Homo sapiens: one gene and its partner. The protein of the gene in region 2 interacts with the protein of the main gene of each other region in a pairwise test. Each region holds a gene or a part of one and is shown on either strand. Other genes may lie near its edges.

What was found. Proteins that work in one complex are often made in the same cells at the same time.
Region 1: the proteins of CPLANE2 (region 2) and RND3 interact in binary tests that used the Homo sapiens proteins (3 or more experiments, as listed by UniProt).

Annotation. Positions count from the first base shown.
Region 1 is NC_000002.12:150,477,644-150,485,140, forward strand, and holds part of RND3 (rho-related GTP-binding protein RhoE precursor), read right to left. Parts: intron 1-7,497. UniProt on the Homo sapiens protein: Binds GTP but lacks intrinsic GTPase activity and is resistant to Rho-specific GTPase-activating proteins.
Region 2 is NC_000001.11:16,234,105-16,241,727, reverse strand, and holds the start of CPLANE2 (ciliogenesis and planar polarity effector 2), read left to right. Parts: upstream 1-4,544; 5' UTR 4,545-4,985; coding exon 4,986-5,097; intron 5,098-7,623. UniProt on the Homo sapiens protein: Required for efficient primary cilia initiation, regulating a late step in cilia initiation. Plays a role in the final maturation of the mother centriole and ciliary vesicle that allows extension of the ciliary axoneme.

The sequences.
Region 1 (7,497 bases), on a different chromosome or scaffold from region 2:
ATATCTAAATATCTGCAAAATTTAGACTCTGGCCTGATTTTAAAATGAAACGGAGTTCTCCAGTTAAACCAGATTTTCAGGGAAGTTTGTATCTGCTTTTGTTTTTATCCGGTTAACAGTATAAGTGAAAATACATATGTAGTGCAAAGGTTTATGAGAAATAAACCACCGTGCTTGTGGAGGTAGACAGGTAATTTTTAAGAGGTTTAACATGATCTAATTAGGGATGACACTTTGATCCCATTCTATTACTTTTGCTAATGAACAGTGCTGCTTTTAGATCAACACGAGTGTCCAAAGGTAATAGTAAAACTGATTCCCATATTTCTTAGTTATAAGCATAATTTGACTGCCAATGACAAGAGTAATTTATTTAAAATAACAAGACCATTTATTCACTATATTTTTGATAGGTTAAGTTTATCTTGTCTTAGATAGAAATATCTATTGTCTCTATTTATTCACAGTGAAAAATATTGATATAGAATTATCAAGAACTGTCCCACCAGGAAAGATGTAAGTCATCAGCTCAGCAGGACTTTCAGGATAAAAAAAAAAACAAAGCAAAACAAAAAACAAAAACACTCACACACAAAAACACCTCCTGTGTAACTTTACAGTGTTTACTCTGTGTTTAAGCACTTGGAATCCTTCCTTTTCTTCCCCATAAAGCCCAAGAGACTGCACAAAGGAAGTAAGGCAAGCAAAGCTGGAGAGGGCACGGTGGAATCACAGGTATGCGTGAGACAACGCATGCCAAAAAAAAAGGAAGAGGAATTCCAGAAATGACTCTGTGAAGTGAGAAGCAATAAAGAGGGGCAGAAATGACACCAAAGGAAGGAGCTGAAAGTAAGTGGGTAAAGCAGGAACAATACCTGCCCCTAACTCCTATATCCCTCCAGAAAAGTCTTACAACACCCTGTGAAGCCAAACGGCAAAAAAAAAAAAAAAAAATTAACTTCTATAGGTGTTTTTAAAAGATGCACATGAAAAACTCCCAAGGTGCTAACTGTAGAACTAAACACAGCACAAGCAGGAGGGCTCAACAATTTTTACTAAGTATGAAAGTATTCAACTTTAACTGCAGTACATGGTAGGTATTGATATACACAGAGTATGTGCTCTAGTACCTAAGAATGCACTAAAGTCCAATAACATTTAGGGACTGCGTTTGGCTTGTCAAATGAAACTCTTTTTCAGCATGTGGAATAGGCTTCATGCATATGGAAATTCTCAGATGCAGCATTTCTCTGGTACTATATGAAACTTTTAAGCTCGCAACCCTATTCCAAGGTCCTTTTTAAGTAACCTGCCACACCTCTGAAGGAAAAACTTAGGGAAACTCTATATTGTAAAGAAACAACTACACTATATATGCAAAATGTGTACCCCGCTCACCCAGAAAATATAGTTGAAAGGCTTTGCTGGGGGTAGATTGGAACAAGTGTACACTTGGGGTTCTCTGAGTTGCTCAAGTTTGGCAAACATCAGCAAAGTTCTAGAGAGCTTTTGAAATTTCAGATCTACCCATCTTTGTATTCAAGATCATTAATTCTGGGTGAGAGCAAAATTTCCAGCCAAAGAATAGTCACAACGTGCCTCACCCAGAAACTAATTCTTCAGACACATACCTGCCTGCTGAAGTCACCCTTTCGCAAATATAGAACACACCATATATGTACATAATTAAATGTATATGTAAGAAGATTCATGCCCAAAAGGAAGGCTTTATGGAACCTTTTGCAAAGTACCAGTTTAAACACTGTGAGGCTTTAGAGGAGTTGGAGAACTGAAAACTCTTCTTGTTGAATATTTCATAAATATAATTTATTTAACTTGAACCTTCATCTGAAAAGCTTCCCTTTCCCCCTTAAGAAATTTTTACCAAGAAGAGTAAGCTAAAGCTATTGCATATTTTTGGCAGAGAAAAGTAGATTAACTTTTGGTATATTTAGTGACCACCATGAGCACATCTGAACGCAGCAGCAGCTAACATGTGAGAGGGCATGATCTGCCCAATTATTACAAGATTGCATTTCCTCATGCCATCTCTAATCAGAGGAAAAGGTTTAAATTAGCAGCAATCTCAAGAATGTGAATCAAGTCTGGGCAGAACTTTTGTATCTGACTCAGTGTAAGACTGTTTAGTTCTTGTTTCAAGTAGTCTGCACAACAAATACCATGCCTGCAAATATGCAACAAACACTCCCAGGAAGAATATGTTTGTTTCTTCCATGGATTCAGGTAATAGGAACTATGAACAGATCTTATAAAATTTTGTGGGCATTTATGTGTTGCTATTAAAATGGAATAAAGATTTTCTATTTCTGGGGGCAATGTAGATACAAAATTAGAAAGTCAGACAGGTAGATATGTTTGGCCTTTAAATAAAGTTTAGCTTTAAACTCCTAATCTTATTGAGGTACTTAAAAATATGTAAGAATCAAAATATTTTACTGACAGTGGAACCATGGTTAAGTCAAGAGCTTTAGGGAAAAGAGTATATGTATATGAATATGCCTAAAAGTAAATAGGGATAATGGATTCAAGTTTTTGTTTCATATGATATCTAAGAATCAGATTTCTTGGAGTAGAATCCCATGAGTGAATTCATCTTTCCACAAACTATGTCATCAGGCTCATTTTTCAAAACCAATGTGCACAACACCTGGTCAAACTTCTGCGTCAACTACATTCCGTGTCAATAAAATGTTTGCTTTGCCAAGGGAGACTCTGAGAAAGTGACCAATATGTAGCAACTGAGAAGTCATTTAAAGGACATCAGAAAATGACTGAGCCACGACTAATTCATTTGGCAGAGCCCGCCAGGCACCATGAGCTAACTGGAGAAAGTATTGGTTCTTGGTGTCATATTTACATGCAAAAGAACTGGATTAATGAGGAAACATCTGGTTATTTCGGGTGTTATCAGAATGACCAATTTGGATGCTTCATTGAAATGTGCAACTTAGCAAGAAACCAGATTGGAAAAAAAACAGCACTAAATGCGGCTAAAAAAAAAAAATCTACAGACAGATGTAGACTTAGAAAGAGCATTCATACTGCCCCCTCCCCTTTTTAGGAGGTTCCTTGGTTTAAATGGAAATTACTGCATGGTGGACAAATCTCCAAATGCAGTTTTATGTACTGCTTATTGGAAACCACCATACAAACTATCTGTTTTACCTTAACCCAGGTCTTTTACATAAGAGTTTCAGTGTGAAAACTCGTTAAGAATTAAACCTAGTTTTGAAACCCTAAGCTCCAATGGATCATTACTACCTGATGAAATGCTTGGTTTCCTGCAATTTCACAGTTGATATTCAAATCCCAAGCATCCATGCTTCTCTGGCTCCTTCATAAATTCTTAACCTCTTCCTTTCTCCAAGAACGTTAATTTAAGTTATAATTCTCAGCTTCCAGAATCTTGTTTTATCTGAGAGCCACTAAATGTAAGCGAGTTTCCACGTGGAAGAAACGTTAAAAACTTCTTAGAACTTAGTCAACTTCTAGAAAGGAAGGGAATTGTGGTGGGCCTCAATGACCATTAAGTCATGAGTTAGGGAGCCTGGGCTGCCCTTGTGGCCTTCAAGAACTCTTTGGATCTTGTTGCTCCTTGAAAAATCCAGGTTTAGAACCTCCGGGCTCACCATCCTATAAACAGGTATTACAGCACTAGACAGGAGGAAGTCTTTCTATGTCCTCTGTTTGTCCTGTGGGTATTCAAAGAAGGTTGTCAGGGAAGAAGGATGTCTTTACCCTGTTCAAATCTCAGTCTACTGGCATCTCCTCTCACCTAAACACCTGACACTTAATCCGGGCTTCTCATTTGATTTCTTTTGTTAGTTTGGGAAAGCCTGAATATTTTAAATTTTATTGTCACTCATGTTTTCACCATGTCTGTCTTATCACATGGTGAAACTGTGAGTACCTAAGGGCAGAAGCTGCTCTCACCCAGCTCTGTACTCCTCCCATAGCATCTAGCAGATTGTATGCACACAGAAAGCACTAAACCATGTTTACTGGTTTTATAATCATTTTTATGTCTTGTCTAGATGTGTTCATTTATATGCTAAATCACCAAAAAAAAAGGGGAGGGGGAGAGAGAGAGCAGTGATCCCCTTTTAAGCTGCTTTTCTGGATTAATTATATACTAATCTCCAATACTGCTGAACCATTTCCATCCCTGTTAAGAAATATTTCATTAGAGAGCTTGTCACCAAGACCATTCTTCATACTTGATGTACAATAATCTAAATATAACAGCTTAGATAGACTTCTGTTTATAGAGAAGTTTGTCCTCATATTAAGGCCATTAGGTAACTAAGATATTTTTCCTCTCTTTTTCTCTAAGAAATAAAGGATACCACCTTAAGTGTTAGTAATGCTAAAAACTAAAATAGGAAGTACTAACTTTAGCACTCAGGGCTTAAAAGAAACTTGGATCATGACAAGATTCGAAAGAGTGTTCATGAGGCAATAGCATAGTTATTGTGGGGAATTTAGCAGCTGAATTGAATATGTTAAAAGTAATAATAAGCCTTAAATAAAATGTGCATTAACTTGCCTTGGTTAAAAAGCTGGAATGAATGATTATTACTCCCTAAATCACATGTGCTGAAATTACACTGCAATCAAATCTCTTAGGAAAAGATACAGTGATCCTTAAATGACTACATTTCTATTATTAGTAGGCATTTGGCTTCATGCTACAAATTACTTCTATGCTTGGCAAATGTGGCCAATTTTGAAGCACAAGATATTAGAATTACTTTGGTCTTACTTATTACTTCACAATTGAAACTATTACCCATTGTTTGGCAGAAACTCATTGGGTGAAATTTGAAAATCAATGGGAGCATTTCTGCAACTATTAAGAATGTTCATTTTATAATGAAAAATATTTTTTAGGAAAATGAAGAAGTTATGGGCCTTAAAAATTCCCTCTTTTAGATGATTCCTACAGCATTTTTACAAAGGTTTTGTTTACTTTTGTTGGGGGGGCTGGAGTACTGTAGCCCTAAGAATTGACTGGCAAAATGCCTTTTGTAGTTGCTTTAACTGGTGTGTGCAATGGGCGGGGGTGGGGGGGGCGGTGCGGGGGTAGCTGTTTCCTATCTGAAGAGGATCCAGAGGATCTATAAGCCCTAGGATGTCTGACAAAGGAAAAACATTGCAACCAAGTGGAAAAGGGCACTGGGGTTCAAGGACCTGACAAAATTAGGTGCATCATGAGTTGTTAATGAAATACACGCTAAACCAGAAGAGCTTCTTTTTCTCCATTACCCCACCTGAACTGTCTGCTTCTTAGGAGCAGGACCATGCTTAATTAACACTGTATCTCTAAGGTCTTGACAGAGGGCCTGTTTATAGTGGATGCGGGAAAAAAGGAAGAGATGGATGGAGAAAGGGAGAAAGGAAGGAAATATTAAGTTACTGTGCCTTAAAAAGCAGGAAATTATTTTTTTTTCTTGGTGCAAAGAGACTTCACATATCCTACTTTCACTTGGTAGTCTTTCTCACATCCAAATTGGCAGAGTTTGCCTATGCATGATCATGACTGCTGGGGGCAAAAGTAGACCCCTTATGAGAAGCTGTCCAACTAAAGAGGCCAGATAAGAGAGGAACTGTTTCTGTCTTCTAAATGGTTGCCCTTCTGCTAGGAGGGTAAACAGGACAGGAAATATCATTCAAAGGACAATGTTCATCCCGTATCTCTCCCTATATAAGAGCAGTCAGGCACACCCAATTTTTCCTATATAAGTCTCTTTCACAAAGTTCTAGGAGGGAAATAAAAAGTGCAATTTATCTGACATTTAGAACTTTACAGACTTGGCTGGGATCTTTTCTCCAGAGTTATATTGATGGCCTTTGGAAAAAATAAATGTATCAAGAGGCATAAGGCATATGCAATTATTTTTACAATCTGAACTAAATAAATGTTTTAGTGGGCAAAGAAAATGTCAAACATTTACCAAAAAATAGTCCTGTCCAGAAATTTGCCATGAAAAGCTTGGAATTAAATGGAAAAATGTTAAAGATCCTTGAAATAATTAGTTGCTGATTCAATGGTTCCTGCTAGATATAAACAACAAATCACTTTTGATGGAAACAGGCTATTCTTAGAATTTAAGTAAGCAGTGCTTGGTGACTGTGTTTAACTAACTAACATTTCACCTCATGAACAACATAATGGAATTCTAAATAATTCCCTTATGCCTCTTTTTTCCATTTGTTTAAATCTAAATTCTAACTAAGATTTCATTACCGGATAATTTTGCAGTACAAAATTTTCTTCATCACATTTTCAAACCTTTATATTTTAGTTAAACATACATAAGTTTTGGTTTCATTAAATAAAAAGACAAGTGATTATTTCACTACAAATTCATTTCAGATGATTATCTTTAATTCGATGAAAGGCAATGTTTATAAAGTTGCCATTCTTTGTGCACAGGTAATTCAGTGTGAATAAATGTCAGGGAACCTCATCTCCTTGGCAACTATGCATATCATTACTCATTTACTCATTCATCAGATTTTATTGGATAACTGCTGTATGCAAGGCATTGTGCTATGTGTGCAGAGTCTACGAACTGCAGAGTTTTGATTAAATGCATGAAGATACCTGAAGTGGTATTTACCTGCACATACGAAGGACAGCCTCCAACTACAAACTGCCCACATTTTGGTTTATGTTCTAGCCTTTATCAAACAATGTGCCTTTTCTCCCCTAAAAGAATCAATTTAGCCCTTTAGGCATCTATTCCGAAATATCCATTGGTGGTCCTGTCACTCTTGAAGCTTGAGATAGGAAATGTATAGCCCAGCATTCCTATAAGCCCACCCATTCCCCCTCCCTGTCCAGATGGGTTTCATTCCTAAATCCACCAGGAAGCCTGGCTCTGCCCAGAACCTGGCTTGCTTTGCAGGCTGTGAAAACCCCAGCACGGGATGCCAGATCCCCTAAGACTAAGAGCTGAAGCCAACCAACATCCTGGGAAACAAAAAGACCTGCCTGTCCAGCGTAATAAAGCCAAGAAGTGTACAGCTGGGAGAGATCCTGCACATCATCTAGCTCAGTGTCCTCTTTTTACAGATGATGAAAATGAGACCCAGGGAGATAGGGGATTTGCACACAGAAATCCATGGTAACCAGGAGCTAAGATCTAAACACAGCTTTGTATCAACGACTGGTTCAGACACACTGCTCCACCCCGTGCCAAAATAATTTTTATCGTGCATTAGGTCCAAACAGGGCTGCCGGTTGGGGCAGGGAGTACTGGTGCTTATTATCGGTACCACACCAGCTGTGCCATCCAGTAGGCATAACAAATACATACCATGATATGTCTGGGAATCAGAGCCCATTAAGTACCAGGCTGTAAAATAATTCTGATAGGAACTACTGAAATAAGGAACCACTTGAATTCTGTCTACCAACACCTTCTCCAGAGTTTCGAGTCTGTGTACCATCCCCAACAGAAAACACGGCGG
Region 2 (7,623 bases):
GTGGTCAGAGGGGCACAGGAGAGCAGAACTCATAGACCAACACGGTCCACAAGCGTCCTTCTGAAACGCAGTTCTAACCATGTCACTTTCAGGTCCCAACAGTCAGCTGGCCTCCTTTGCCCAGCAGCAGTGTTTACATGAGGTCTGTGGACCCTGTTATGGACTGAATTATGCCCTGCTCCACCCAAATCCATACATTGAAGCCCTAGCCCCCAATGTGACCATATTTGGAAATAGGTCCTTTAAAGAGGTAATTAAGGCACGCTTTTCATCTGTCCCGCTGAGTGTTTGCCTCTTGATCAGGAACTCCTGCTTCTCCCTGCCTCTAAATGGACCCCAACTGCTCCTGCTCGCCTGATGGTTCCTGCGCCTGTGCCGGCTCCTGCAAATGAAAAGAGTGCACATGCACCTCCTGCAAGAAGAGCTGCTGCTCCTGCTGCCCTGTGGGCTGTGCCAAGTGTGCCCAGGGCTGCATCTGCAAAGGGACGTCGGACAACTGCAGCTGCTGTGCCTGATGCCAGGACAGCCCTGCTCTCAGATGTAAATAGAGCAACCTTATAAACCTGGATTTTTTTGGTACAACCCTGACCCATTTGCTACATCTTTTTTTCTATGAAATATGTGAATGGCAATAAATTCATCTAGACTAAAAAAAAAAAAAAAAAAAAAGGTAATGAAGGGTGAGCATGGTGACTGATGACTGTAATCCCAGCACTTTCAGAGGCCAAGGCAGGCAGATCACTTGAGGCCAGGAGTTTGAGACAAGCCTGGGCAACAAGGCAAAACCGTACCTCTAAAAAAATACAAAAGAAAAAGTCCGGGCATGGTGGCTAATGCCTGTAATCCCAGCACTTTGGGAGGCCAAGGCGGGCGGATCACCCGAGGTCAGGAGTTCAAGACCAGCCTGGCCAACATGGTAGAACCCCGTCTCTACTAAAAATACAAAAATTAGCTGGGTGTGGTGGCAGGCGCCTGTAATCCCAGCTACTTGGGAGGCTGAGGCAGGAGAATCACTTGAACCTGGGAGATGGAGGTTGCAGTGAGCAAAGATCGCGCCATTGCACTCCAGCCTGGGGCACAAGAGCGAGACTTTGTCTCAAACAAACAAACAAAAATACAAAAAAAAAAAAAATTAGCCAGGCGTGCTGATATGCACCTGTAGTCCTAGCTCCCCTCGGGGCTGAGGCAGGAGGATTGCTTGAGCCTGAGGAGGTCGTGGCTGCAGTGAGCTGAGATCACACCACTGCCCTCTAGCCTGGGTGACAGAGTGAGGCCCTGTCTCAAAAAATAAAAGAAAAAGGTAATCAAGGTTAAATGAGACCATAAGCATGGAGCCCTAATCCAGTAGGACTAATGTCCTATTTGTAACAGAGGAAGAGACACCAGACATGTATAAGCACAGAGAAGAGGCCATCTGTAAGCCAGGAAGAGAGGCCCCACCCAGAAACCAACTCTGCTGGCACCTTGATCTTGGACTTCCAGCCTCTAGAACTATGAGAAAATAAATTTCTGTTGTTTAGAGTACCCAGACTGTGGTATTTTTGTTACAGCAGCCTGGGCTGACTCATATAGACCCCAACTTCAGAACTGCCTAGTGCTTTTGTCAAATCTGCAGGCTCACAGACCTACCCAGCCCCTGACACAGAATGTCGGGGTTGGATGTGTGAACCCCAAATATCTGAGACAGGTCACAGTCAATTTAGAAAGTTTATTTTGCCAAGGTTAAGGATGTGCCCGTGACAGCCTCAGGAAATCCTGAGACATATACCCAAGGTGGTCAGGGGTACAGTTTGCATTTAAGTTTTAGGGAGACATGAGACCTCAATCAATATGTGTAAGATGTACATTGGTTTGGTCTGGTAAGACAGGACAGCTTGAAGCAGGGGCTTCCAGGTTAGAAATACATAAGAGACAAGGCCAGGTGCAGTGGCTCATGCCTATAATCCCAGCACTTTGGAAGGCTGAGGTGGGCGGATCATGAGGTCAGGAGATCCAGACCATCCTGGCCAACATGGTGAAACCCCGTCTCTACTAAAATACAACAACAACAAAAATTAGCCGGACATGGTGGGGCATGCCTATAGTCCCAGCTACCTGGGAGGCTGAGGCAGGGGAATCACTTGAACCTCAGAGGCAGAGGTTGCAGTGAGCCGAGATTGTGCCACTGCACTCCAGCCTGGGCGACAGAGTGAGACTCTGTCTCAAAAAAAAAAAAAGTAGATAGGAGACAAAAGATTGCATTCTTTTGAGTCCTTGATCAGCCTTCCACTGAATACATAATTTTATTTATTCAGCTCTGTCACCCAGGCTGGAGTGCAGTGATATGATTCTGCTCACTGCAACCTCCACCTCCCAGGTTCAAGCGATTCTTCTGCCTCAACCTCCAGAGTAGCTGGGATTACAGGCGCCTGCCATCACAGCCAGATAATTTTTGTATTTTTAGTAGAGACAGGGTTCACCATGTTGGCCAGGCTGGTCTTGAACTCCTGACCTCGGGTGATTTGCCCGCCTCAGCCTCCCAAAGTGCTGGGATTACAGGCGTGAGCCACCGCGCCCAGCCATTTTTTTGTATATTTTTAGGGATAAGGTTTTGCCATGTTACCCAGGCTGGTCTCAAACTCCTGACCTCAAGTGGTCCACCAGCTTCAGCCTCCCAAAGTGCTGGGATTACAGGCGTGAGCCACCGCACATGGCCCCAAGAGGACTTTACATCTTCTCTGGGTTGCAGATTAACAGGCACGTTCATTCTGCCAAGTTGCTTCATTTTCTCACACGCTCACTGAGCCCTCCACGAGCCAAAGATGGGTGGATGTGAAGTCTGGAAATCCAGAAATAATTCAGATCAGAGCCCTGCCACTGAGTGACTCCTGGCCCATGGAGAGAGCTCTGGACAGCTGTGAATCTCCCTGACTGGGCAGATGTGACAGCTGCAGGAATGGGAACCATGTGACCTGGGAGTATGGGCAAAGGATTCCACCTGCAGAATCCTGTAGGAATGGTTATTCATCTGGTTTTTCTGCCTAGCCACAGCGTGAGCAAGTTGAGAGAAAGCACCTTGTCTTACACATCCTCATCCCCTCTCTTAGACATAATGGGCCTTAAAAATCTGTGAGTTCGTAGTCCTCTGGCTGCTTTCTGCTTCCCTAGGAACAGCCCTCCTAGTGGCTAGGGGCAAAGTTTTAAAAACACAAAACCCAAACTGGCAGAACAGATAAGTACTTTAGAGTCAGGTAAGTGTGGGTTCTTTTTTTTTTTTTTTTTTTTTTTTTGACAGGGCCTAGCTCTGTCACTCAGGCTGAAGTGCAGTGGCATGATCTCGGCTCACTGCAACCTCCATTTCCCGGGCTCAAGCAATCCTCTCATCTCAGCCTCCAAGTAGCTGGGACTACAGGCGTGCACTACTGTGCCCGGCTAATTTTTGTATTTTTTTTTTTGTAGAGGCAGGGTCTTACTATGTTGCCCAGGTTGGTCTCAAACTCCTGAGCTTAAGCAATCTGCCCGCCTCAGCTTCCCAAAGTGCTGGGATTACAGGCGTGAGCCACCACACCCAGCCAGCTGTGGGTTCTGAGTCGGTTTCACACTGACTAGCTGTGCGGTGTGACCTCAGACAAGTCACGTTATGTTTCTGAGAGTCTTCGTCAGTACAAGAGGGTAATACTATTTACACAGGTTTGTTTATAGAATTAAATCAGGTGACCCCTGTAAAGTCCCCACTGTCTGGCACTTGGGTGGCCTTAGGTAAAGCTTAACTCCTAAATTATTCCTTTCAAAACAGTGATTTGCCCTACTTGAAGGCATTGCGGAAAGATAATGGTAAAAATTAAATGTAATAGACAAACTCTCAGTAATGACCCACCTGCACTCTTTCCAACCAGTGGGCATTTACTGAGCACCCACCTTCTGGGTAACAGGCCTGGTGTCCAGTGCTGGAACGGTGGAGAGGAGCTCAGAGTTTCAGAGCTGAAAAGTCAGCTCCAGGAGAGCAGGGACTTCTTGTTGGCCACTGTATTCCCAGCTAGGTGCTCAGTATTTGTTGAATGAATGAATGAATGAAAAATACAATCCAGCGGGCCTCTGACTCATTTTTTAAAACTTGAGCCAAGTCCCTTGACCTCTCTGAGCTGGTGTGTGTCCCCATCAGTGAAGCCAGAGATGTTTAAGTCATCTAGAGGTCCTGCCAAGCAGGATTAATAGAGCAATAATATTAATAATAGCAACAATCATAACTAAACATATGGAGCACTGCTATGGAGGGAATAACATGTTACGTCCACGTTATAGAAGAGGAAACTGAGACACAGAGAAGCATGAAAGGCTCCTGGAGGGGGGGTTTCATGATGTTTTGGAAGAAAGACTAGGGATCGGACGGAGTCATAGAGAAGAGGATCCACAACCCAGAGGAAAAGGCCTAGTCCAGAGCCACCGCGCGGCGCAGGCTGCGGACGTTGTAGGAGGGACGAACGCCTCCCGGAACCCGCCCAACCCAACCTCCGGCGTCTCCATGGCAACAACCTCCGCACATGCGCCGCGCGCACCTGCGCCGGAGCTGCCAGCACGCGCAGAAGGCGGACGCAGGCGGGGCGGAAGTGGGCCCGGCGGGCTGGGGCGGCGGGAGTGCGGGTGGGCGTTTAAAGGGGCCTTCGGCACCCAGGTCGGTTCGCCGCCGGGACTGCTGACGGGGAGGGCTAGGTAGCCCTGGGAGTCGGGATCTAGAAGGTAGAGGAGAAGCGGGGCTGTCTGACCCCCGGAGGTGACAAGGGGAGAGGGGCTGTGTGAATACCCTCCATGGGCAGTAATGGGATGACTATCCCCAGGGAGCATTGCGAAGGAGAGAGGCGGCTGAGGGACTGCACTTTCTGGGGCCCCCCGGGAGAGTCAGAGGGCAGTTAAGAGGGATCACAGGCCCGGCTTGGTACTGTCACTCCCCTTCCCACTCCCTGCTCTCAGCATTCTGTCACCTCCCTACCCCGTCGCGGTGCCCAGCCATGGCCAGACCTCCCGTGCCCGGTTCGGTGGTTGTCCCAAACTGGCACGAGAGTGCCGAGGGCAAGGAGTACCTGGCTTGCATTCTGCGCAAGAACCGCCGGCGGGTGTTTGGTAAGTGCCTCCCCCTTTCCTCTAGCCCGCCACTTGTCTTTCCCTGGGGAGAAGAGTGTCACCTGTTGCTCCCTGAGGAGAGCAGAGAGGCAGGGCAGTGAGGGCCTGCTCCACTGCAGTCTTCAGCAGTCTTCAGCCTGGGGGACTGAAAGCCCTAGCTCTGGGACCCCCACACCTAAATCTCCTTAGAGCTAATTCCATCGTCAGAGCCAGGAACATGGAAACAGCAGAAACCTTGCCAGCAACCACTGTCACCAGAGATGCAGTTGATTGAGCACTCCCCTGGTGCCAGGCCCTCTGTTGGGCACGTTACACAGTGCACGCCCATTTAACCTCTCAACAGCACATGGTACAGACTTGGCTAAGATCACACCCCAATAAATAGAGGTGAGCCTCTTCCATGTCCTGCTGTCTCTGGGATGAGACGCTGGTGTTCCCCATGGTGAAACTGACTCACCCAGGCAGGGCCCAGCTGTCAGGCCGGCAGAGGTGCCTGGAATCAGCTGTGGAGCCCAGCTCTGGCCAGGAGAAGCAAGGTGCCAGAAGACTTAAGACCAGAGAGTGAGATAGCTAGAACCAAAATTTGTGAATAAGTCAACTGTTTGTTTGTTTTTTTAAAAGAAATTATATTAAATTCAAAAAATGACCCTCTAGAAGGCTGGGCGCAGTGGCCTGTAATCCCAGCACTTTGGGAGGCCGAGGTGGGCAAATCACCTGAGGTCAGGAGTTCAAGACCAGCCTGGCCAACATGGCGAAACCCCATCTTTACTAAAAATACAAAAATTAGCCGGACGTGGTGGCGGGCACCTGTAATCCCAGCTACTTGGGAGGCTGAGGCAGGAGAATCGCTTGAACACAGAAGGCAGAGGTTGCAGCAACCCTAGATCGAGCCATTGCATTCCATCCTGGGTGACAAGAGTGAAACTCCGTCTCAAAAAAAAAAAAAAAAAAAAGACCCTCTAATATGGCCACTGTCCCTCTAATCCCATGATGGCTGGCAACACTGTATTTGGGGTCACACATACCCAGGCAAGTGACCCAGGCTCCACCACTGCTAGCTGTATGGCTGGGAATAAGTGAACTCTAGCCTCAAGTCCCACCTCTGTAAAATGGGGATAATCACAGTATTTACCCCATAGAGTTACTGGGGAAATTAATAAGGAGGGTGTTTGTAACATACCAAGCAGGTTCTGGCATGCAGTGGGTGTTCACTGAAGGTTGGCTGTTATTGTATTTATTTTGCATTTAGTTGTGTTGAGTGGAAGAGAATTGAGTGAAGGTTGAGCTGATTTTCTGGGAACATCATAGAATCCACTGACCATATTATCTATGCCACAGATAGGATTAAGCAGCCATAACTTAGAGGAATGGCAGTGATGGCTTTTAATTTTTGTGTTTTTACTTTAACTGCAGACATTTGGGTTTTTTTTTAACAGCTGGGTTTATGCACCTGAATGTATCATTCAGTGGTTGTCATGCAGGCCCCACAACAAACGCTGAGAGCAGCTAGTAAATAAATATCAACAGACTGACTATAATGCTTAGGCTAGTCTCTTTGTATCCCAGACTTCTGTAAAATTAGGTTGAGTATTAAGAGCCACAGATGAGGCCGGGCACGGTGGCTCACGCCTGTAATCCCAGCACTTTGGGAGGCTGAGGCAGGCAGATCACCTGAGGTTGGGAGTTCGAGACCAGCCTGACCAACATGGAGAAACCCCATCTCTAAAAATACAAAATTAGCCAGGCATGGTGGCGCATGCCTATAATCCCAGCTACTCGGGAGGCTGAGGCAGGAGAATCACTTGAACCCGGGAGGCGGAAGTTGCAGTGAGATCACACCATTGCACTCCAGCCTGGGCAACAAAAGCGAAACTCCGTCTCAAAAAAAAACAAAAAAGAACCACAGATGGTTGGTTAGCCCTGAAGAAGCCATTAGAAATGAGGTTGTCCTTGGCTGTATGTGGTGGCTCATGCCTTGTAGTCCCAGCACTTTCGGAGGCCAAGGTGGGAGGATTGCTTGAGCCCAGGAGCTCAAGACCAGCCTGAGCAACATAGTGAGACCCCATCCGTATTAAAAATAGAAGGTAAAGAAAAAAAGTAAAAATAAATAAGTGAGACTGTCCAGCCCAGGATCTGATGGGGCAAGTGCAGGATTTACCCGCGTCTTAGTCCATTTTATGCTGCTACAACAGAATACCACACTCTAAGTTATTTATTTATTTATTTTTTGAGACAAAGTCTCGCTCTGTCGCCCAGGCTGGAGTGCAGTGGTGTGATCTCGGCTTAGCAACTTCCACCTCCCAGGTTCAAGCAGTTCTCCTGCCTCAGCCTCCCAAGAAGCTGGGATTATAGGCACCCACCACCACACCCAGCTGATTTTTGGTATTTTTTTTTGTAGAGATGGAGTTTCACCATGTTGGCCAGGCTGGTCTCGAACTCCTGACCTCAGGTGATCTGCCCGCCTTGGCCTCCCAAAGTGCTGGGATTACAGGTGTAAGCCACCGCACCAGGCCTCCTCTGTGTAAT